3 separate regions of the Homo sapiens genome follow, and all the other regions are linked to region 2. Evidence: fine-mapped expression QTL. A gene starts in region 2. Each other region holds a variant in brackets. All regions are shown on one strand. Distances are from middle to middle. Region 1 holds the start of LOC105376451 (a long non-coding RNA gene). Region 2 holds the start of PIP4K2A (phosphatidylinositol-5-phosphate 4-kinase type 2 alpha). Region 3 overlaps PIP4K2A (phosphatidylinositol-5-phosphate 4-kinase type 2 alpha).

The links.
Region 1: its variant is fine-mapped to the expression of PIP4K2A in left ventricle (GTEx, PIP 0.95).
Region 3: its variant is fine-mapped to the expression of PIP4K2A in whole blood (TOPMed, PIP 0.97).

What each region holds. Positions count from the first base shown.
Region 1 is chr10:22,851,879-22,859,881 of GRCh38, reverse strand. It overlaps LOC105376451 (a long non-coding RNA gene), which reads right to left and starts at 5,782. Exons shown (of 3, transcript XR_930749.3): 1 at 5,664-5,782. The variant G/C (reference allele first, on the strand shown) is at 4,595.
Region 2 is chr10:22,710,295-22,718,297 of GRCh38, reverse strand. PIP4K2A (phosphatidylinositol-5-phosphate 4-kinase type 2 alpha) reads left to right here and starts at 3,720. Exons shown (of 10, transcript NM_005028.5): 1 at 3,720-4,115. The coding sequence starts at 3,972. RefSeq lists enhancers at 2,858-3,465, 3,466-4,074 and silencers at 3,235-3,904, 4,205-4,284, 4,455-4,574, 4,875-4,984.
Region 3 is chr10:22,601,847-22,609,849 of GRCh38, reverse strand. It overlaps PIP4K2A (phosphatidylinositol-5-phosphate 4-kinase type 2 alpha), which reads left to right. Exons shown (of 10, transcript NM_005028.5): 2 at 133-230; 3 at 1,827-1,923. Among named protein-coding and RNA genes, the nearest start is that of PIP4K2A, 110 kb to the left of the region's middle. RefSeq lists an enhancer at 4,608-4,757. The variant G/A (reference allele first, on the strand shown) is at 4,934.

The sequences.
Region 1 (8,003 bases), 140 kb before region 2:
GCTTGATGGGGATGGCATTGAATCTATAAATTACCTTGGGCAGTATGGCCATTTTCACCATATTGATTCTTCCTACCCATGAGCATGGAATGTTCTTCCATTTGTTTGTATCCTCTTTTATTTCATTGAGCAGTGGTTTGTAGTTCTCCTTGAAGAGGTCCTTCACATCCCTTGTAAGTTGGATTCCTAGGTATTTTATTCTCTTTGAAGCAATTGTGAATGGGAGTTCACTCATGATTTGGCTCTCTGTTTGTCTGTTATTGGTGTATAAGAATGCTTGTGATTTTCGTACATTGATTTTGTATCCTGAGACTTTGCTGAAGTTGCTTATCAGCTTAAGGAGATTTTGGGCTGAGACAATGGGGTTTTCTAGATACACTGTCATGTCATCTGCAAACAGGGACAATTTGACTTCCTCTTTTCCTAATCGAATACCCTTTATTTCCTTCTCATGCCTAATTGCCCTGGCCAGAACTTCCAACACTATGTTGAATAGGAGTGGTGAGAGAGGGCATCCCTGTCTTGTGCCAGTTTTCAAAGGGAATGCTTCCAGTTTTTGCCCATTCAGTATGATATTGGCTGTGGGTTTGCCACAGATAGCTCTTATTATTTTGAGATACGTTCCATCAATACCTAATTTATTGAGAGTTTTTAGCATGAAGAGTTGTTGAATTTTGTCAAAGGCCTTTTCGGCATCTATTGAGATAATCATGTGTTTTTTGTCTTTGGTTCTGTTTATATGCTGGATTACATTTATTGATTTGTGTATGTTGAACCAGCCTTGCATCCCAAGGATGAAGCCAACTTGATCATGGTGGATAAGCTTTTTGATATGCTGCTGGATTCGGTTTGCCAGTATTTTATTGAGGATTTTTGCATCAGTGTTCATCAAGGATATTGGTCTAAAATTCTCTTTTTTGGTGCTGTCGCTGCCAGGCTTTGGTATCAGGATGATGCTGGCCTCATAAAATGAGTTAGGGAGGATTCCCTCTTTTTCTATTGATTGGAATAGTTTCAGAAGGAATGGTACCAGCTCCTCCTTATACCTCTGGTAGAATTCGGCTGTGAATCCATCTGGTCCTGGATTTTTTTTGGTTGGCAGGCTATTAATTATTGCCTCAATTTCAGATCCTGTTATTGGTCTATTCAGAGATTCAACTTCTTCCTGGTTTAGTCTTGGGAGAGTCTATGTGTCGAGGAATTTATCCATTTCTTCTAGATTTTCTAGTTTATTTGCGTAGAGGTGTTTGTAGTATTCTCTGATGGTAGTTTGTATTTCTGTGGGATCGGTGGTGATATCCCCTTTATCATTTTTTATTGCATCTATTTGATTCTTCTCTCTTTTCTTCTTTATTAGTCTTGCTAGCGGTCTATCAATTTTGCTGATCTTTTCAAAAAACCAGCTCCTGGATTCATTAATTTTTTGTAGGGTTTCTTGTGTCTTTATTTCCTTCAGTTCTGCTCTGATCTTAGTTATTTCTTGCCTTCTGCTAGCTTTTGAATGTGTTTGCTCTTGCTTCTCTAGTTCTTTTAATTGTGACGTTAGGGTGTCAATTTTTGATCTTTCCTGCTTTCTCTTGTGGGCATTTAGTGCTATAAATTTCCCTCTACACACTGCTTTGAATGTGTCCCAGAGATTCTGGTATGTTTTGTCTTTGTTCTCATTGGTTTCAAAGAACATCTTTATTTCTGCCTTCATTTCGTTATGTACCCAGTAGTCATTCAGGAGCAGGTTGTTCAGTTTCCATGTAGTTGAGTGGTTTTGAGTGAGTTTCTTAGTCCTGAGTTCTAGTTTGATTGCACTGTGGTCTGAGAGACAGTTTGTTATAATTTGTGTTCTTTTACATTTGCTGAGGAGTGCTTTACTTCCAACTATGTGGTCAATTTTGGAATAGGTGTGGTGTGGTGCTGAAAAGAATGTATATTCTGTTGATTTGGGGTGGAGAGTTCTGTAGATGTCTATTAGGTCCGCTTGGTGCAGAGCTGAGTTCAATTCCTGGATATCCTTGTTAACTTTCTGTCTCGTTGATCTGTCTAATGTTGACAGTGGGGTGTTAAAGTCTACCATTATTATTGTGTGGGAGTCTAAGTCTCTTTGTAGGTCACTCAGGACTTGCTTTATGAATCTGGGTGCTCCTGTATTGGGTGCATATATATTTAGGATAGTTAGCTCTTCTTGTTGAATTGATCCCTTTACCATTATGTAATGGCCTTCTTTGCCTCTTTTGATCTTTGTTGGTTTAAAGTCTGTTTTATCAGAGACTAGGATTGCAACCCCTGCCTTTTTTTGTTTTCCATTTGCTTGGTAGATCTTCCTCCATCCCTTTATTTTGAGCCTATGTGTGTCTCTGCACGTGAGATGGGATTCCTGAATACAGCGCACTGATGGGTCTTGACTCTTTATCCAATTTGCCAGTCTGTGTCTCTAGATTTCAAATTGGTTATTTTTCATCTTATTATTATTTAAATCAATTAAAGTTTTGAATTAGAAGAGAATTCGATTAAAATTAAATTACTTTGCCAAAACAGTAAATCAACTTGGGACTAAACTTTCTTAAATTGCATGTGTTCTTTCATTGTTCACTCAGTCAACTTTTTTTTTTTTTTTTTTTTTTTTTTCAGATGGAGCCTGGCTCTGTCGCCCAGGCTGGAGTGCAGTGGTGCAATCTCAGCTCACTGCAACCTCCACCTCCTGGTTTCAAGCGAGTCTTCTGTCTCAGCCTCTCCAGTAGCTAGGATTACAAGTGTATGCCCCCACGCCCAGCTAGTTTCTGTATTTTTAGTAGAGGGGGGTTTTCACCATGTTGGCCAGACTGGCCTCAAACTGCTGACCTCAAATGATATGCCCACCCCACCTTCCCAAAGTGCTGGCATTGCAGGCATGAGCCACTGCACCCAGCCAAATTTTTTCTTTTCTTTTTTTTTTTTTTTTGAGACAAGGTCTCACTCTGTTACTCAGGCTGGAGTTCAGTGGCACAATCATAGCTCACTGCAGCCTCCTCCTCCTAGGCTCAAGTGATCCTCCCACCTCAGACTCCCACACAGTGGGGACTACAGGTGTGTACCAAGCTTGGCTCATTTTTTTTTTTTTTTTTTCCTTCAAAAAACAATGTCCTACTCTCTTGCCCAAGCTGGTCTGGCTCTCCTGGGCCCAGGCGATTCTCCTGCCTGGCCTCCCAAAGCATTGAGATGAGATGGCACACATGAGCCGCTGTGACCAATCTTTATTGAGCACTGACTGTTTTAAGACATTAGGTAAAATACTGTGAGTGAAATAGAGATAGATTAGCAACCATCAGGAACTTCCCTCTGCAGGTTTGTAGTTTCATAGAGAAAACAAGATTTAGATGCAAATGCTTGTAACAACATTTACAGAGAAATCATGTAGACCAGAGGAAAGGAAGAAAGATGAAGCATCAGCCATTGGAACTTGGACAGGAAGGGATTAGTCCTGGCTTGAGGGAGGATTTGTAGCTGCCTCTGTGCATCCTTTCCTGCATTTTCTGACTTTGCGTTCATTCTTTCTTTCACTATTTAATGATACTCTTACCCTCTGGAATGGTTGAGTTAAAAATTACGACCAGGCAGGTGCAATGGTGCTCCTGTAGTACCAGCTACTCCAAAGGCTGGGGCAGGAGAATTGCTGGAGGCCACAAGTTCAAGACCAGCCTGGGCAACATAGCGAGACCCTGTCTTGACACCAAATTTAAAAATTTGCTGGACATGGCAGCACATGCCTGCAGTCCCAGCTGTTTGGGAGGCTGAGGCGGGAGGATCACCTGGGCCAAGGAGTTCAAGGCAGCAGTGACCTGTGATCATTCCACTGCACTCCAACCTGGGCAACAGAACAAGGTCCTGTCTATTTAAAAAAAAAAAAAAGGATAGACATTTCACCGGCTCTTGCAGTACAAAACAGACATAGTCTCTGGGATATATAATATATAAAAGAACCAAAAAAATAATAATAGTACGGGTGCTGATTTTGGATCTAAAAGATTAAGTTCTTGTTGTCTGTGTGTTAATTTAGAAATAGTCCTCCTCAACATTAACATCTACAGACGTTTGACCTAAGGTTTGAAATATTAGGGAATTTATTCTCTTTTTTTTTTTCCTCTGTTGCCCAGGCTGGAGTGCAGTGGCATGATCTCAGCTCACTGCAACCTCTGCCTCCTGGGTTCAAGCAATTTTCCTGCCTCAGCCTCCCAAGTAGTTGGGACTATAGGCACACACCACCATGCCCAGCTAATTTTTGTATTTTTAGTACGGACGAGGGTTCACTATGTTGGCCAGGCTGGTCTTGAACTCCTGACCTGAAGTGAATCAGCCACCTTGGCCTCCCAAAGTGCTGGGATTATAGGTGTGAGCCACTGCACCCAGCTGATTCTCTTAACTGATAAAGGCCAAAAGGAACAAGGATCGACACTGACCAAGGCCTGACCTCCACAGAAGTGCTCCCAGCACAGGGAGGCCGCAGGAGTAGCAGAGAAAAATTCAGGCTGAAATGTTTGCAAACAGACATCCCCAAACACAGCGTTGGCATGAAGGAAACTCAGAGCACATTAGTCACTGCTTCAATGGAGGAGTGGGAAGACCA[G/C]CCTCAGCCCGCTGGTGAAGAGCAAAGTTTAAAATAACCCTACTAAATTAGAACAGTGGTCAGGATGCTTTTTAAAGTTTGCTGAAGATAAATGCAGGGTAGGAGTCCCTCCAGGAGAGGGAAGTGAAGTATACAAATAGAAGATAAGATGTGACTGGCTACAGGGAAGGATGTCTTAAAACGAGCCAGCAATGAAAATAGATAAGCTGGAGTCAGTCATAACAGCAGCTTTTTAAAGACTGAACAGTGCCAGGATGTAAAACCAAGTCCCCAGAGGAACCATGAGATCACCCTCCCATTATACATGGTACTAGTCAAACTTTTCTAGGAGCAGGGTGTCCATTCCTGAGTTCTAGAATTAAGGGGCATGGAGAACTTGGAGAACATTCTATCCCTAAAGTCAACCAGGATTAGAAAATGGGACTTCTGCAAAAAAGTAAGGGCTCGAGATTGTTCATTATGAAGAGAAAGCCAAGAGTTGATTAAATTGGCATCTTTAATTGGCAAGATTGTGTATGTGTGTAAATATGTGTGTATGTATGTATATATGTGTATTTAAATTCAGCTATTTTTTTCACCAGGGTACAATCTTTTTAGCTATAATATAAATATTTGGGGTTACATGTTAAGAGAATTGTCTAAAAATAGAGTTCAAACCCCAGTTTGAACAAACTCTGCTCTAAATTGAAAGCCATTTGCTTAGGGGTCAGAGGCCTCCTGGAGGGCCTGATCTTCTTGGTCTGATTTGACTTTATATTGGTAGGGATTACTGCCTAACGATTTATTTTTCTTCATTCCATTATTATTTTTCAGGCATCTTTCTTCTTCCTGGTCTACAGTTTGTTATAGTGTCCTCCCTTATCTACAGCTTTACTTTTTGTGGTTTCAGTTACCCGAGGTCAACCACAGTCCAAAAATATTAAACAGAAAATTCCAGAAAGAAACAAATTATAAGTTTTAAACTGGGTAGCATTCTGAGAAGGGTGATAAAATCTTGAATTGTCCCGCCCCATCCCACCTGGGACATGAATCATCCCTTTGTCCAGTGGATCCACATTGTACTACCCACCCATTAGTCATCAATAGCATCTGCTCCTGACATTCAGTCACTGCCATCAATTATGGTTCGATGATCCAGGTTCACCTGAAGCAGATGGTCCTCCTAATCGTCAGAAAGTCAATAGTAGCCCAACCCTACGTCACAATGTCTGTATCATTTACCTCACTGCATCTCATCACAAAGGCATTGTGGTATCCCACATCATCACAAGAAGGGTGAGCACAGAACAGTAAAATATTTGGAGAGAGAGACCACATTCCCACAACTTTTACTGCAGTATATTTTTAGAATCATTCTATCTTATTATGAGTTACTGTTATTAATCTCTTACTGTGCCTACTTTATCAATTAAACTGTATCATAGGTATGTAGGTATAGGAAAAAACAATATCTATAGGATCTGGTACCATCCATGGTTTCAGGCATCCAATGGGGGTCTTGGAACACATCTCATGAGGATAAGAGGGGACTACCATATTCTCCTGTCTGTGTTTGTAACAAGAATGCTGCACTTCTAGGCACCGAGTTGCCTCCCAACCCCTTCCCCTCTGCCATCAGAGAAACTCTCCCACCTCCTCTGCTCTTCCTGAGCTTCCTTCATGCATCTTGCGTCAGCCGAAAGCTGTCTCTTCTCAGAAGACACTCCTTCCAATTGCCCGGGAATGCCTTTCTCTCTCACATGCACCCTATTATGGAGGTGGGCTGCCATCGTCTTTGCTCCTTGTTCCACTTGCATCCACTACTATTGTTCCCTCTTGCAAAAATTCTTGCTTTTTTGGACTTCGTGGTTTTCAGCTCAACCACTCCTTCCTGTTATTTTCTTCTAGCCAATTCCTGGTCACTCCCTTCCCAGCCATTTGTCAAAGTCTTAGCATGTGGACTCAAAGTCCCACCATCCTGCCCAATAAATTCAACAAACACATGGCGTTCCGCTGTACCAAATGGCCTCTGATTCCTCAAGTTCTCATCTGCAATAGCTCTTCCACTCCACTCAAATCATCCATCCTAGTGCACACACATTGGGTCTTCCTGTCACTCCCCAGTCCCCCACTTGCAGAGTCACTGAAGCAAATGTCCTCTGAGCATCACTACTTCCCCTTGCCCTGGCTGACTCAGCTCCTTCCACTGAGGCCATTCCTCAGCCCCATCAGGATTTCAGGCTTGCAGCTCCATCCTCAGTCTCTCAGTGCCTTGACCTTGTCCCGTCTGCACATCCTCCTCATCTGGCAGATGCCAAGGGTTCAGCAAGTTGATAGCCCTTTTGCCAATACTCTATATTCCCTTGCCCTTTGAGCTTTTTTTGTTTGTTTCCCTCTTCTGGCAAACTCTCACCCCTAATGAATCCAGCTATTTGCATTCCAACCCCCAGCAGCTGAACTCTTCTGAAGAAAGGCACGCAATGGAGCAGACTGGCTTTATTGTAAATGCATAAAAATGAATCTCAGGGCCGAGTGCGGTGGCTTATGCCTGTAATCCCAGAACTTTGAGAGGCTGAGGTGGGCTGATCACTTGAGGTCAGGAGTTTGAGACCAGCCTGGCCAACATGGTGAAACCCTGTCTCTATTAAAAATACAAAAATTAGATGGGCATGCTGGTGCAGCATGCCTGTAATCCCAGCTACTCAGGAGGCTGAGGCAGGAGAATCGCTTGAACTTGGGAGGCATTAGTTGCAGTGAGCCCAGATTGCACTACTGCACTCCAGCCTGGGCAACAGAGTGAGACCCTGTCTCAAAAAAAAAAAAAAAAATGAATCTCAGATGGACCCTCTTACTACATATTTTGATTAACTCACTCTCCTACTTTCCATCAAAACTTCTACAGAGCTTCTCCCCTCCTTTGGTGACAGCCACTCTCACACCACATGCACACACAAACACACGCATCTGCCCCTTCTTCCTCAAACTCAGCAGAAACTTTGCCATCTACAACACAAAGAACATTGAAGCTGTAACAGAAGGACTCTGGGATTGTTCAGAACACTCTTTGCCAGGCTCTGGTGGTGCAGGACTTTTTTGTCTTGCCCTCATCTCTCTGGCTACCCCATTTCCTTTGTACAAACCTGGCCATTAAATATCCACCATGTTATGCCAGAACTTTTCCTCACTCCACGTGCTTTTCTTAGGCATTCTTAGCAATGACAAACTTGCACAGATGACTCACAAATGCATATCTCTAGACCAGACATTCCATCGGCGCCTCCGACCCATCTGTCCACCTGTCAACCTGTCATCTCCATGCAGACATCACAAAGGCACAGCAAAAGTTCCTACCTAAATCACGCATCTTCCCACCTTCCAATCCATGCTCTTCTTCTACCTCTCTTATTTCAGCACAAGATACTACCATCTT
Region 2 (8,003 bases):
ACAAATAAATGCTATGGAAGCACTGAGGTGGAAGGATGAATTTGAATTAGGAGGATCAGGAAAGCATCAGGGAAGAGAGGATTTTTGAGTCTAATTGTTTTCAAGGGCAGGATCCAATAAAGGAGTTTAGGTTGGGTGGTGGTGAAAGGCAATAATTGATGATGATGGTAAGCCTTCAAGCCTGGCCAATGAAAATTTGTTAAATAAAAGAACTTCCAGCTGGGGTAACCGAGTGATATGAATGCCATTTCCAATATAATACAAGAAATAAAGTAACTTGTGGATGGGGAAAGATGTCAAACTTGGCTTTAGATATCTTTTTTTTTTTTTTTGAGATAGGGTCTTGCTCTGTTGCCCAGGCTGGAGTGCAGTGGTGCAGTCATAGCTCACTGCAGCCTCAGTGATCCTCCTGCCTCAGCCTCCCAAGTAACTGAGACCACAGGATGCATACCACCATGTGCAGCTAATTTAAATTTTTTTTTTTTTTTTTGGTAGAAATGAGATCTCGCTATTATATCCAGGCTACCCTTGAACTCCTGGGCTCAAGTGATTCTCCCATCTTGGCGTCCCAAAAGTGCTGGGATTACAGGCATCAGCCAGCATGCCCAGATGGTTTTAGACACTTTTAAAAGATGCCTGTGGAAAAATGATGTACAAATGTGCAACCAGGCATTTCTCTGGGGTCGGGGAAGAGTTTATGAGTTACTTGCAAGCACTCTACATTTTCTATTGTGTTGTCTGGTTTACAAAGGGTTTTCATTGCCATTATCTACTATTGATTTTGATTCTAACAAACATCCTATAATGTAGGTAGGGGAGGATTATATTACTAGGTTCAAAATAGTTCCTAAAGTGACATTTGTGTCTGATGATAGTTACTGTTAACATAAAGAACCCGAGGCTGGGAGAGGTTAAGTGATTTGCTCAAGTAAGTGGGAGAGCTACAGCTCAGTCCCCGTGATGTCTCACTAAAAATTTAGGTTTTGGGCTTTTTTAAACCACTAAGAGCAGTGATGGTTGATGCTGGAGAAGCAGATATCATTTTGGATGAAAGCAAGCAGGAAATTACGACGAGGGGACTTAAAAAACAGTCAAAGAAAGAATAGGAGCAAATGAAGGTGACCACATGACCTCCCCTCAACCCCTGAGGAGACTCAAGATCCTAAAGGGATAATGGCCTGTCATCCTTCATCTCCCTGACAGGACCAAGCAGTCTGCCAAGGGCACAGAAGGTATCTACTATATTTGAGTGGAGTAATAATGACAACAGACAACTTACAGCGGGTCCTCAAATACTGTCATTTTGTTCAATGTTGTTTTGTTATAATGTTGATGAGAAAAAAATGGATTTCTAGCCGGGACCACTGTTTGTATTTGCAGGTTCTCCTCGTGCCTGCAAGAGTTTTCTTTGGGTACCTTGGTTTCCTCTCACATCTTAAAGACATGCACGTTCAGTTCATAGGCTTGTCTACATGATACCAGTAGTTTTTCTTTTCTTTTTTTTTTTTTGTTTTAAGAGACGGGGTCTCCATCTATTACCCAAGCTAGAGTGTAGTGGCATTATCACAGCTCACTGCAGCCTCCAACTCCTGGGCTCAAGCAATCCGCCTACTGCAGCCTCCAGAATAGCTGAGACTACAGGTGTGTACCACCATGCCTGGTTAATTTTTGTATTTATGGTAGAGATGGGGTTTCACCATATTGCTCAGGCTGGTCTCCAACTCCTGGGCTCAAGCAGTCCACCTGCCTCATGCCTCCCAAAGTGCTGGGACTACAGGCATGAATCACTGCCCCCTTCCTAAATGGTCCCAGTTTAAGTGAGTGTAGGGGTGTGTGTGTGTGTGTGTGGTGTGTGTGTGTGTGTGTGTGTGTGTGTGTGTGTCTTGCAACAGAATGGCATCCTATCCAGGGATGGTTCCCACCTTTTGCCCAAGCTGAGCAGCTGGGATAAGGCTCCCACTATCTGTGACCTTGAACTGGAATAAATGAGTTGGAAAAATGAATAAATCCGTGAAACAAATGACTGTAAAATAAAAATATGTAAGTGTACATTAATCATAAAAATGCACGACAATAAATGAGATAGGAGTGCACTCAGCTACCATATTTGTGATTGTTTTTGAATTTCATGGTAGCAGCAGGTCCTACAGGCAACTTTTGCTTTGCAAACACTTATTCCTTGACTTAACCCAGCACCACAGCAACCATCGCTCACTTAATCACTAGAAATTTGGCAAACCATTATCTTGTTTTTATCAATCTTTAAAAAATGTAGGTAGGCCAGGTGCAGTGGCTGGTGCCTGTATTCCCAGCACTTTAGGAGGCCAAGGTGGGCAGATTCCTTAAGCCCAGGAGTTCGAGACCAACCTGGGCAGCATGGTGAAACCCCATCTCTACCAAAAATACAAGAAGTTTATCCAGGCTTGGTGGTGCGCGCCTGTAGTCTCAACTACTGGGGAGTCTGAAGTGGGAGAATCACCTGAGTCTGGGGAAGTAGAGCCTGCAGTGAGCTGTGATTGCACCACTGCACCCCCAGCCTGGTTGACACAGCGAGACCCTATCTCAAGGGAAAAAATAAAAATAAAAAAGAGGTATAGCTCACATTTATTTTAATGTTTAATATTAGAAGTGTTTTGAATTTTTACTTTGAAGTTCGGTGATGTTTTTGTAACCGGAAATAATGCTGTAGGAACTTAACTCTTTTTTTATATGTCAGCCTATGGCAAATTTGGTTTTGTTATATGTTGTTTTGCTTAAGGTGACAGTTTCCAAGAACCTACTCCGTGAGGACTGGTGAGCTGGGTCAGAGTAAATAGCACAGGATGACGACTGCAAGGACGATATGGGGGCAGCAGGGTTTTAGACATACTTGGAATGGCAGCTTCCTGAGGTAGGCCAAGTATTCTCAGCATAATAAGGGCTACATTTAGGTGTATCTGGAGGAAGACGGTGAACAGATTTCCACGGACGGTGAGTGCACTGGAAAACAGGCAGGGATGGCAAGTACCATAGTGATGGATTGGAAGAAGGTGCACTTTGGGGCATGATTCTACTGGTTAAGCCAAGGGCTCTCGATGAGGTCCGAGGTTCCTGCCCCGGGCACGGAGTGGGTTGGCAGTGACAGCCCAGCCTATTACGTGGGAGTCTCCCTCTTGAATGGCTCCAGGAGGCCCATATCGAGGGTCTGAAAGGCCAGACGGTTATCCGCACAAAAGTATTAAGTTCATTTCAGGGACTGACCCGGCAATGTGCCCGGGTCCTTCCCCTCGGTGCTGGGAAGCCCTGGTCTCCCTGCAGCATTTCACACCTGGCTGGGTCTCCTGACTCGTGGCGTGGGTGAGTGCATGAGCCTCCCTCCTTCGCCTGATCGACGCCTGGGGGCTCCTCTCCCCAACCTCCTCACTCTGCCCACTCTGTCCTCTCCCTCCTTGGGGAGCGGCAGGGGACGCCTAGCCGGGGTCCCCAGGCTCCCGCTCGCAACCCACGGCCTCCTCCGCGGGCAGGGAGCGAACGCCCGGAGGTCGCCCGCGCACAGGGGGCGGCCCGGCTGCAGCGGAGCCGGGGCGGGAAGGCGCAGCCTAACGGTCCAGCTGCCGCGCCCCGCGCCCCGCACCCAGTGCCCCGCCCGCGGCGCCGCAGCCGCCTCCCGCCTGCCCGCCCGCCCCCTGCGTCATGACGCCGGCGCCCAACGCGGAAGCCGCTCGCCGCGCGCCGGGTCCAGCCGCGGGCTGAGCGCGGATCCGCGGCGGGCGCAGGATACGGGCCGGGGCGCGAGCCGAGCGCAGTCTGCCGGGCCGAGCGGGCGGAGCGAGCCGAGTGGGGCTGAGCGCGCCGGCGGCGGCGGGCGGAGCGGAGCGCGGCGCGCCGGGGCCGCCGCCGGGGGGATGCGGCTGCCTCCCCGGGCCGGGGTGTAGAGAGGGCGGGTCCCCGGCCTCGGGAGCACGGCGGTGGAGGGGACATAGGAGGCGGCCATGGCGACCCCCGGCAACCTAGGGTCCTCTGTCCTGGCGAGCAAGACCAAGACCAAGAAGAAGCACTTCGTAGCGCAGAAAGTGAAGCTGTTTCGGGCCAGCGACCCGCTGCTCAGCGTCCTCATGTGGGGGGTAAACCACTCGGTAAGGGCTCAGCTGCGGCGCGCGGTCCCCTTCCTCCTCCTCCTCTTCCTCCTCGTTCCCCTCCTCCTCCGGCTGCAGCTGCTGCGGGGCGGGGAGCCGGAGTCAGCCCTGGACCTCCGGCTGCTCGCCCGCCTCGAAGCCCCCAGCCCCGCGGCGCGTGCCCCCAGCCCTCTGGGCCGCCCAGGCACCACCACTTGCGTCCCCTTTAGATCTATGGCCCGGTGCGGGTCGGGGGTCCCGTGTGCATGTGAGTCTCACGGTGGGTGCCAGTGCCGCCCCCGGTCCGCCCGCCCGCCCGCAGGTCGGTCCCCGCAGCCTGGGAGGTAGGAAGTTTGTGCGGGGCACGGCGCCTCGGCTGTCAGCCCCGGCGGGAGCTGCTGGGGGCCGGGTCCGGGCGACCGCTACCCGGTGTGGGGGCCGCGCGGCGCCCGCGTCTTCCGCTTGCGGGCAGGTGTACCTGTCCCGGGCTGGGCGCGTGCGAGCCTCCCACTGGGGCACTGGGGCGAGGATACCGGAGCGCGAGCAGATTTGGGGCAGCAGCTTTAGTGCTTAGGTCCTTTCTTTTTCCTTTAAAGGCAATATTACTGGGCACAAGTCGGCTTTTTGGCAAAGCAGCAGCCGATGTAAATATGGCTCTGGCGTCGGGCGGCATCCCTGCGCTTCTCCCGCATCGCCCTGCCGCTGTGCGGGCTGGAGAGCCCTTGGCGGGGAGTCTTCCTCCCTTCGTCGCCTCCCCCCACTTTGGGGAGTCAGGCAGAAGTCACCGACTGCGGAAGGGCGGCCGGGGCGGGGACAGCAGGCGGGGGTCCCGGCGGGCGCGGGCGGAGGGGGTCCCGAGTTGGCCGCACCCGCTGTGGGGGGTGTGGGAAAGGCTGGAGAACGCGTGGAAAGGTTAGCGTCACGCACAGTCGGGGATTGGAGGATGCGCCGCTGCGGGCTATGCGGACTGCGGTTCGAGGGTCTGAAATAGCCTCCTGCTGATCTGACAGCGAGAAACTCCTGCAGTTTTAATCCACTTCGATAGGATCAGGAAACATGATCGGAGCTGTTGGCTCAGCCAGGAAAGTTTAAACGAGCTGTGAATTTTGACCATGACCTTAGCCACTGCAGTCACTTAGCATCTGGGGAAAAGTGTAAGTTCGCTTTCCCTGCTTTTGATTTCGATGGATGTCTGTATGTCCTTTTCAGCGTAATGGAAATGACAGAAAACCATGCTGGTTTTTCGGAAAACACACACACAGACACACACACACACACACACACACACACCCTCAATGTAGTGAAGTTGTTTAAAATGCCTAAAAGCATCGTTTTTGTATTTTTCTTCCCCAAGCTGAGCAGGGGGAAGGGCAAAACAGTATCAGGATCGATCGTGTTTGCATGGAGTGAGTGTTTTTGGAAAAGTTGAGAAATGATTATTTTTATCCAGCTTAATGACTGACTCACTGAAGTTCATTTTAACTTCCTGGCAACTTCTTTAGCTATTTGGGAATGTAAGTTGTTACAAGAGCATGCATTACTGCACCAAAAACTCCTCTCTCAAGTTTTATTACGGAAAATGAAATGCAATTTTTCCTAAGTAATAAGTTTACAATGTAGAGTTATGTATAATTTTGTTAAGCTCTTTTATTATTTATGTTAGTAGTTTTTGGGTCCCTTATTACTAGAATAGAAACTTACAATTTAAAAAAAGGATGAATACTGTAGTGCTTACTCATATTTATGGTGCTTTTATCTCCTTTGGAGTTCTGGTGTTTTGGTCAGGAGAGTGTTTCTGTCTCGGGGTTTAATTTAGTAAGGTAGTGTCAACAATATGCTGCCGAAAAAGAGTGTGCTTTCTGGGAACTCGTCTGAATTCCAGTTTGCCTTAAAAAATCTTGTAATTGTGTATGTTTTACTGTAACCACTTACGTTGCTACCTTATATTTATGAATTGCTACATTTGTTTTAGAGTTTCTTGCTAATTGGAAATATTTTGAAACTACTTAAGTGTTTCATAGTGTATGACTTGTAAATAGTACATTTGGTGTTATTTTCTTTTGCTCTCAAGAGAAGTTGGCAGTTCTAAGTATCCACAACCAGAGGAGTGAAGTTTCCATTTCATATAAATGTAAGCATGTTACTCATTCAACAGATATATATTGGGCACATACAGTGCCAGCTACTGTGGGAAGAATTGCTAAAACACCTCTAATATTTTTATCCAACTGTCTTTATTTTGAGGGCTCTGAGTTGACATAAGAAAGGTCTGTTTCACAGCCTTTTTTTTCAAAATGTCTATTTTCTTTACTATATTATTTTTGAAAAAAGAATGGAGGTGTAATATAAACATGAAATCTAAAACCCTTAGATGCCATGTATTTCTGGTTTGATTTCATTTTAGGTGACAATGTCTGATATTAGATAAATGTTTTATATGACCTTCTGTGCACCAAAGTTTATAGTATAATGTGAGAATAAATATGTCAGCAGTCTTAAGAACAAACAAGCATGGTGTTGTATACGAGCATCTTCCACATACTGTGGTAAAACGCTCATTGAATCTGCGCTTTAAGTTTTTCTTAAATTCTAACTGTTGACCTTGGGCATGTTAAGGTCAGGTTTTGGCATCAGTGTTTGCATCTGTGAACTGAGGTTGTTTGGATGATTTCCAAGTCTAACTCAAGATTCTGTTTTTTCAGTCTACTAGGTGCACAGTGTTATACTAGGATTTGTAGAATACTATATAAAAGTTGTCTTACTATTATAACCTTCCAAATGCAGCAACATTCAGGGAATTTTCAAGACCTTGACTACAGGGGAAGGAAATCTATGGTGATTTTAAGAGACTGTGAACTAAGGGTTTGTTATATTGAATGTAGCTGAACTGCATTGCAGTCTATTAAGCCAAAGTCGATTTGATTGAAACATAACAACTTGCAATTAAGGTGAAAATGTTCAAGTCCATTGAGGTGGTAATGAAAATCTTGATTTGGGCAATGGTCATAGTCGGGAGTAAGCCTGCCATTGTGTGGTTAATTTGATATGTTACTGCTTTGTAACTTAAAATACCCATCAGTGAATGGATCAGTGCCAATTTTTAAGTATTTTAAGCAGAGAATATAACTGAATACATAAAGGAAAAGACTTAAGGCAGTTTTGTCTTGTTACATTTAGAATTAAACTAAAAATGATCAAACAGTAAGCGTCTTAAGATGATATTTTAATAGTGTGGGGAGGATGTTGAATGATATGAGCCAAGACTTGTTTTAAATAGATACTCTAAAAGATTTTTATCCACAGTGAAATGTGAGCCTTTTAGAAATTAGTATTTTAAAACCTATTTAAATATCCAAAGGAAAACATTATCTGTATAGAAAAATCTTAAAGCACATAAAACTTGTTTAAAACATGTAGCATTTAGAAGTAGCTAAGTATTGATGTTAGAGGCTTTTGGTTTAAAGCTGTAGAAGTTGAAATGAGCTTTGGCAAAAATGTCAGGTATTGAGGGGTTTGGGGGGCCTATCACAGTAGAAGGAAAGGCTGGTAATGGAACCATGTGAAGAGCTGGGTGCTTGAGTGTGTGGGTGTGTGAGTGCGTGGGACTTTTCTGTACCCTTTGGCTCAGTTCTCCTTCATAGCTGGCTGGTTCCTCCACAGAGCAGGGAATGAACGGTTCCTGTATTTCACATTTTGTCATTTCTGCTCCCCCAAAAGGGTTTCCTGTCTCTAATTCAGTTATAAAAATACCGTGGAAGGATTCCACTTGGGATTGGTCTGGCCTTGGTCATTTGTGGCCGTCCCTTGGACTAAGCAGTTATAAAAACATGGCAGCGCTTGCCTGTTGGCGTTGGGGAAAGAACAGTCCCCAGAGAGGGGAAAGGGCCTGCCAGGCAGTTTCAGGCAGGT
Region 3 (8,003 bases), 110 kb after region 2:
GGAGGGTGGGTTGGTGGGTGGGAAGAGAAGTTCCTGTGTCCACCATGTTTTTTTTCCCAAGGTACACATTCAAGTCAAGTCCTCCTCACCTGGATAGTAATAACCCATGCTATTTATTTTATATTTTTCCAGATCAATGAACTGAGCCATGTTCAAATCCCTGTTATGTTGATGCCAGATGACTTCAAAGCCTATTCAAAAATAAAGGTGGACAATCACCTTTTTAACAAGTAAGTACAAGTATGACCTTTCATAAGACTAGCGTGGCTGCTAGGAGTACAAGTTTTGTGAATTTTTGTAATCACATAATTTGTCAATGGGTGGGAGTAAAGTTTTGCTGATGAAGTTAATCCTGTGATAAACATAACCATCTGTCATTTTTAGAGAAGCAACAGCAGGCTCTCTGGGATAATATCCTTTGCCATATGGCATATTGTTCTCTATGAATATCTTATACGTTGAAAGTGATATTCTCATTATAATTCAAATTTTTGAAGCTGTAAATTGCTTGGATTTTTGAGCAGTTATGAACCTCTGCTCTTGTACACAGAACTTTGAAAATGATGATTTATGAACAGCAATGACTCCATCTTAGAACAATAAAGACCCAAGGTACATTTTCATAAGGCACAATTAGATGCCATGTTGGGCATTGATAACATTCCTCCTTCATTTGAATGTTGTTTTAGACGTCATTATGAAGCACCTATTATATGTTAGGTGGTCCATTGAGAGCTAGAGATGCAATGATATAGAAGACACGGCCCTGCCCTCAAGGGGCTCAGAGTACAAAAACTGACACATATACAAACTGCTATAGTTCAGTGTGCAAAGTATGATAAGGGAGGGGTGTGTGCATATGTATAATTTAATTTATCTGGTTGTGTGGGAACACAAAGAGGGAAACAATTCTGAATGATTAGGGTGAACCTCAAATCACTCCCATGTGAGGATCATTATGAAATTTTTTTTTGAGACAGGATCTTGCTCTGTTGCTCAGGCTGGTGTGCAGTGGTGAAATTATATCTCACTGCAGTCTCAAATTCCTGGGGTCAAGCAATCCCCCTTCCTGAGCCTTCTGAATAGCTGGGACTACGGGTGCAGGTTACCATGCCCAGCTGATTTTTTAAAAAACTTTTTGTAAAGACAGGGGTCTCACTATGTTCCCCAGGCTGGCCTCAAACTCCTGGCCTCAAGAAATCCTCCCACCTCAGTCTCCCAAAGTGCTGGGATTACAAATGAGTGGTGTAAGCCACCATGCCAGGCCAATTATGAAATTTCTTCAGGGGGCCATTGTCCTTATGTGAAGCTGATGTTAATTTTTCTCATAACAGTGTTTAGAAGCTGACTTTCAGGGAATTTCCTCTAAGCAAATTTAGAATGTGGCATTTATATAAAACAGGCCTTTTAGGGGGGTGAGGGAGTGGCCCTCCTTTCCTCAGCAGTAGCTGAGAGGGAACCTTGCTCCGCTGCCTCTTCCTAACTCACTCTCCCGCCATTGTGCTTTTCCCTCACTGCTCCCCCTGCCTGGCCCGTTCCTTCCCCACCTCTTGTTCTTTGAGGAATGGCTGCAGTGTGTGGCCAGGATTTAAAGAGGTCACATAGTCCAAGCGTGCCTGTGACAAAGGAGACAGACAGACATCCGTCTGGCCCCCTGTGTCTCCTGGATCTTTCTGCGGGTTGTACCTGGTTCTAGGAAGCACACCTGTGCTTTTGGTAGGCAGTGAACTCTGAACCCTTCTTTGGCTACCTGTGGAACTCAGTGGTGGCAGATGCAAGTCTGATTGACTCTCTCTGAGCTTTATTCCACGCTGTGACTGTTTCAGAGAAAACATGCCGAGCCATTTCAAGTTTAAGGAATACTGCCCGATGGTCTTCCGTAACCTGCGGGAGAGGTTTGGAATTGATGATCAAGATTTCCAGGTGAGTTGCGTTTGTAACATTTGCTTCCAGTAGGAAATGGGTTTTGCCATGACTTTTGCTGTGTCAATTGGGATCTGTATTTTTGTCAATAAAAGTATTATATAATAGTAATTTTCATTTTGTGTAAGAAGTTTTTAATGTTCATGCTGAAGTAAAGTGTTCTCTTGATTGGGGACCTCTATACATATGATACCGGTATAAAAGTCAGTAGGAAAATATATTACTTTTCTTTGGAAGGAGACTGAGCATGTGAGGGTTTTATATAATACTCTCATTTCCAGGTGGAAATTAACAGGCTAGCAGAGCTGCCTGTTAATTTCTGCTGTCAGACATGTCAGTAGCCTGTGTGAGTGTGCATGTTTTGTATCTTCGTAGAGGCTACTTAGGACTCTCAGGAATCTTTATCTTGCTGATTTGCTGCTTTTCAAGTTGGTCAGACTCTTGCTGCAGCATTTTTGTCAAAGGGCACCCTTTGTGCACTGCAGTGCTGGACTGTGGAGTGACCATAGCACTGTGGTCAGCACCAGGAACCCAACATCCTGGGCGTGTCCTGTGGTACATCTTCCTCTTCATCTTGATTCCCACCACGTAAAAATGTGCACTGCTGCTCTCCTCCCCACACTGGCCTGGTCCTTCATTCTAACTTTTAAACATCTGTTTTAACTCTTTAAATAACTGTTGAGCCATGATCATTTTTTTCTGAGAAAGGATTTGACATTGGTTACCCAAGTTTCATATAGCGAGCCAGATTCGTAAATGCTAAGGATTTTTTTTAAAAGTGGAAATCCAAGGGACAGGTTGAGTATCCCAATCAGAAAATCTGAAATCCAAAATGCTTCCAAATCGAATATTTTCTGATCATCAACGTGATGCCACAAGTGGAAAATTCCACAGTTAAGTGCTCAACACAGCCTTTGTTTCATGTACACAATTATTTAAAATATTGTATAAAATTACCTTTAGGCTATGTGTATAAGGTGTATATGAAATAGATAAATTTCGTGTTTAGACTTGGGTCCCATCCCCAAGATATCTCATTATCTTTGCAAATATTCTGAAATCTGAAAAAATCTGAAATACGACTGGCTGCAGGCATTTCAAATAAAGGATGCTCAGCATATACTGACTTAAGTCCCTTCAAATCTAGTCCTAATCTGCCCTCAATTTAAGATCTGAATTTATCCTGCATTAAGTGACATATTGCCACCCTGGGTGACTACAGATTGAGTACTGATACAGCTTACCCTGTATTTTCCTCTGAAGAATAGGGTCCCTCAGGCAAACTGAGATAGTTAGCACACTTTCCTAAAGATCTGTGCTCCCACTGCCCTCTCTGTACCATTGCCAAAAATTTCCAGGAATTTTTCATATGTTTACTCAGGCATGAGAGAGGCTGCCATGTTTGGAGAAAGCAGCGCTGACCAGGCTGCCGGTGACATTGTCTCATGATGGCCTGGGGTTGTGGTTTACATGGAGGTCCAGACCCTGAGCTGAGGCTCTGTGTACACAGAAGAGCTGAGGGCTGGCTAGTGGGACAGGAAGGATGTGGTTGCTCATCTGCTATTAAAACTGCGTGGGAGCCAACACTCCTGTTAGGGCGTTTCTTTTTTTTTCTTGATACAAGGTCTTGCTCTGTTGCCCAGGCTGGAGTACAGTGGTGTGATCATAGCTCACTGCAGCCTCAAACTGCTGGGCTCAAGTGATCCTCCGACCTCAGCGTCCAGAGTAGCTAGGACTACAGGTGTGCACCACCATGCCCAGCTAATTTTTTTTTTTTTTTTGGTAGAGATTGGGGTCTCACTATGTTACCCAGGCTGGTCTCAAACTCCTGGCCTCAAGCCGTCCTCCCAGAGCATGAGCCAGTGCACCTGGCCTTGGGGCTTAATTTTTAAGAGAGAACTTAGATCACAATTATGGACTTGAAATTTACTGCTGTAAAAATAATTAACTTTAACAGAAAATTATTAGAATAGTAAAAAGCATTTCTCTGAAGTTAAAATTAATAATTCTGTATCACTTTAGAACCATTACTAAATTTAAAGAGGCCACCTGAAAATGAACTAGGTGCTTTTTTTTTTTTTTTAAAGGAATTAACAGCAGATAGCTTCAGTGTCTTAAGAAAATCTCCTCTGCCTTAAGAAAAGCTGAACACCAGTGTGTTCCTCCTTCTCTCCACGTCCTTTTTTTGTTTGGCTGGGTTTTGTTTTAATAAAACAATTCCACTGGCATTTCACAGAAACTGACTTTTGAGGGCCCATGCATCTATCTTATCTTGTTAGATTCCTCAATTCATTATTGAAATGAAGTCTTTCTATTTCTTGTCATAATCAATTCTGTCAAATGAGATCCAAAATGAACCCATTATGGTCTGAGTTCTGCACTGCAGCAGAGAAAAGTAGTTTTTAAAATTTCCTCAAATGACCAATTTAGTTGCTGAAATGCAAAGACATGAACTGGTTTTCCTTCCCTTTTTTTCGCCCTACAAAGAAAACTACGTAAGTTGATATTGAAGTCAGTACAAATTGCTGAGTACAAACTTTGAAAGAAAATTAGGCAAGTGGAGGATGATTCACAAGTAACTAATTGGCAAGTCCGTTAAACTCTTCACATGAGAGCTCCCTGTTGGGGAGAGTGGTGTGAGTGTGATTAATCATTCGAACACTCCTCCTTTCCTTAGCTCTGCCTGCTGCTTTCTCTTTGGCAACTGTATTTCTATTAAAAAAAGAAAAAAAAGAAAGAAAAAGTGTGTATTCAGAGTCACTTCAGTACTGCAGAGGTATACTCTTCTTCCCTCCTCAGTCGTATATTTCTTTCCCAGTGTCTGTACCTCTTAAAATTCTTCAGTAGGGTCAGGGACCCTGAGTTCCAGCTGAAAACAGGATCGTAAATCTGGGGCTGTATCCCAGTCTTTTGGCTACTTGGTTTGGAAGAAAGGAGGGTCGTTGTGACAGCTCTGGCTCCAGGGTCACCTCGCAGGCCCCTGTATACTGCAGGGATTCAGGCGGCAGGC[G/A]GGCAGGGGCCAGGACCTGGGGCTTCAGCTGCCTGGCACATTGTTACTGCCCAGACAGTTCAATCCTCATGCCCAGTTCAAGTAACAGGTATCATTTGGCACATGTGGCGCCAAATGACTAAAAGCAACCTTGTTTTCCTCTCCTGGAGCTTGCCAATGTGCCTTTGCTGAGTAGAGTCTCCCACCGGCCGCCTCTGTCACTCCTGGGTACTGGCTGCTGAAGACTGCGTATATCGGAAAAAAACCAACTCTCTTTCTGAGCTTATCAATGTGAGCTGCTTTTTGAATACTCTTTCCCAACTGACTTGGAAAGTAGGATCAGTGACCTAGGCTCTCATAGTGTTTTGGAGGACACTGGATAGCTGAAGGGGAACAGGCATTGCCTGCTGTGTTTATTTTTCCAAACTGCTTGCATTTTGGACAAGCGGCTCTAAATCAATGTGGTGGTTAGGGGCTCCATCGTCTGGTTTATCTCGTATTCAGACCTTTCCATTCAGCCAAGTGGGTAAATGGTCCCGACTTGTCTTGTTTGTGTGACCACCTTTTTGCTACACCTGAAAAAAGTAGGTATTGGTCTGTGGAGACCACTCTGATTAAAGCAGAGCATGGTTAAGTAGTAACCTATGCAGTTGACCCCTACTGGTGAATTTAAACTTCTTAAAAAGTTTTTAAGATAAATGAAAAGGATAATGAAATGAAAAATGAAAACATTCCTGCTTTCTCAGTAAACATTTGTATCTTTCCTCTGGTTTTGATTTCTGGAATATCTTTTAAAAATGACTTTTCCTTGTTGTTAAAGACAAATTCAAAGAACAATTCTAGAATATCCATTGTTAATAACAGTACCACAGTACCATGTAACATACATATGTAAACCTCTGTGTGTGTGTGTGTGTGTGTGTGTGTGCGTGCGCGCGTGTGTGCTCGCGCATGTGTGTAACCAGTGCTTCTAGATTCAGAACTTTTTCCAATTCATTAGGGCATTTTTAAATTGCATGATAGGTTTGTAATATGCTCAGGGTTGAATCAGTGTGTCATCAAGGTTCTGATCATTGTTTGGCCAGCATGATATCCATCGTCATACTTTAAAGGTGTGTTTCAGGATGAATGCTGCCTGGGAGGCCTGTTCTGTGACTATAGCCGCAGTCCTGTGTCTACCATTACCACTGCCCCCTTAAGCCCTGATCACCCTGAGGTCTGGGATTTCATGCATAATTATCCAGTCAAAGTATTTGTTTGTACCTACCACATGTCAGGCTCTGTGCTAGCCGTTTTAGGGAATGCAGAGAGAAGAAAGGGTGAAGCATCACTTTCTTTAAAAACTATTGCATACCAGATTCTGTATTAGATGCTAACGAGATTTACAGAAACCCAGCATCTTGATTTGTAATGTTCTTCATGAAAATCTGCACCCCTCTTTCCAGTCTCTTATACTCATTTGATCGTCTCTTATGTTTATACCCAGAGAGACTGGAAAGAGGGGTGCAGATTTTCATGAAGAACATTAAACAGCCCTGGGAAGTCAAACGGAGGCTTCAGTTACATTTAGTAGCTGCCAGAGAGGGTTGCCTCCCAGAAACCAAAAAGTTATGCAGGAGGGAGCTGATGCTGTTAAACCTAAATAGACCACACATTTGAAAGTGAGGCCTCTTGTTCACTGTGGAGGATAATACCAGGTTTGCTTTTCCCCTACTGTGACTCCTGAATTAGAATCCCTCATTATTGACATCTGATGCCCTTTCTTCTTTGTGTTTGTAACAGAGAATTCTAATTTTAAAATAATTAATTTTAAGAGCTAACATTTTAAACTTTTGATATTCTTATTTCAAGTTTAGAAATAAAATTCTAAAGTGTTAAGACCTTCAGTGTATACTAAACTTGAAGTGGGGCAGCAGGAATTCTGCCTTTATCTCTAGAATATCAAGTCTATCCTCTGAAACTTTCACTTGTAGATTTCTCACTTTTGACTTTAAACTGCCTGAGGGCAGGAGCAGTGTTTGTGTTTGCTGGCTGCCTGTCACCCGTTGAGCACAATGCTGGGCTCAGCAGGCACTTAAGAAATATTTGCAGTCAGGACAGTGGCCACACCTGTAATCCCAGCTACTCAGGTGGCCAGTGCAGGAGGATCTCTTGAGCCCAGGAGTTCGAGACCAGCCTGGGCAACACAGTGAGACACCATCTCTAAAAACATGAAAAATAAATAAGTAAATAAGAAATACTTGTGAAAGAGAGTGAGGGCTAATGGGGACTTTGAAGAGAAGTGAACTCTCTGGGCCCAAGCGGAAGGCAGGAGAGCCCATGAAATGTGAAGGTATTTGGATGGTGGCAGAATAGTGGGAGATAAAGATGTTAAAATAGCAAGAAACACAAAGACACCAGGGACACTGGGCCGATTCTGCTGCCAGCGAGCAGCCCTGTGGGTTTTGCTCAGGGGAATGGCAATGTCATGACATCTGTATTTTCTTTTCTTTTCTTTTTTCTTTTTCTTTCTTTCTTTTCTTTTCTTTTCTTTTTTTTTTTTTATAGACAGAGTTTCACTCTGTTGCCCAGGCTGGAGTACAGTGGCACAATCTTGGCTCACTGCAGCCTCCCAACTCCTGGGCTCAATCGATCCTGCCACTTCAGCCCCCTGAGTACCTGGGACTACAGGTATGTGCCACTATGCCCAGCTAAGTTTTGTAATTTTTGAAGACACAGGGTTTTGCCATGTTGCCCAGGCTGGTCTCGAACTCCTGGGCTCAAGCGATCCACCCACCTTAGCCTCCCAAAGTACTGGGATTACAGATGTGAGCCACTGCACCCACCCGAGGTCTGTATTTTCTAAAGATAACTGCATTGTAATTTATAGAATGCATAGAAGGGAGATAAGGAAATCAGGAGGCCATGAAATCCCAGTGAGCCAAGCCTCCGTCACCCACCATGTAAAGCACGGAGCAGCTTGAAAAGACATTGAGAGAAGTAAACCCACAGGTTCAGTGGCCAGTGGCAAAGGACAAGAGCCACAGAGGCACTGGGACCTGAAAGCTAAGAGAGCAGGGATGCGGGTCACAGAGGGAGGGATGTTTGGGGC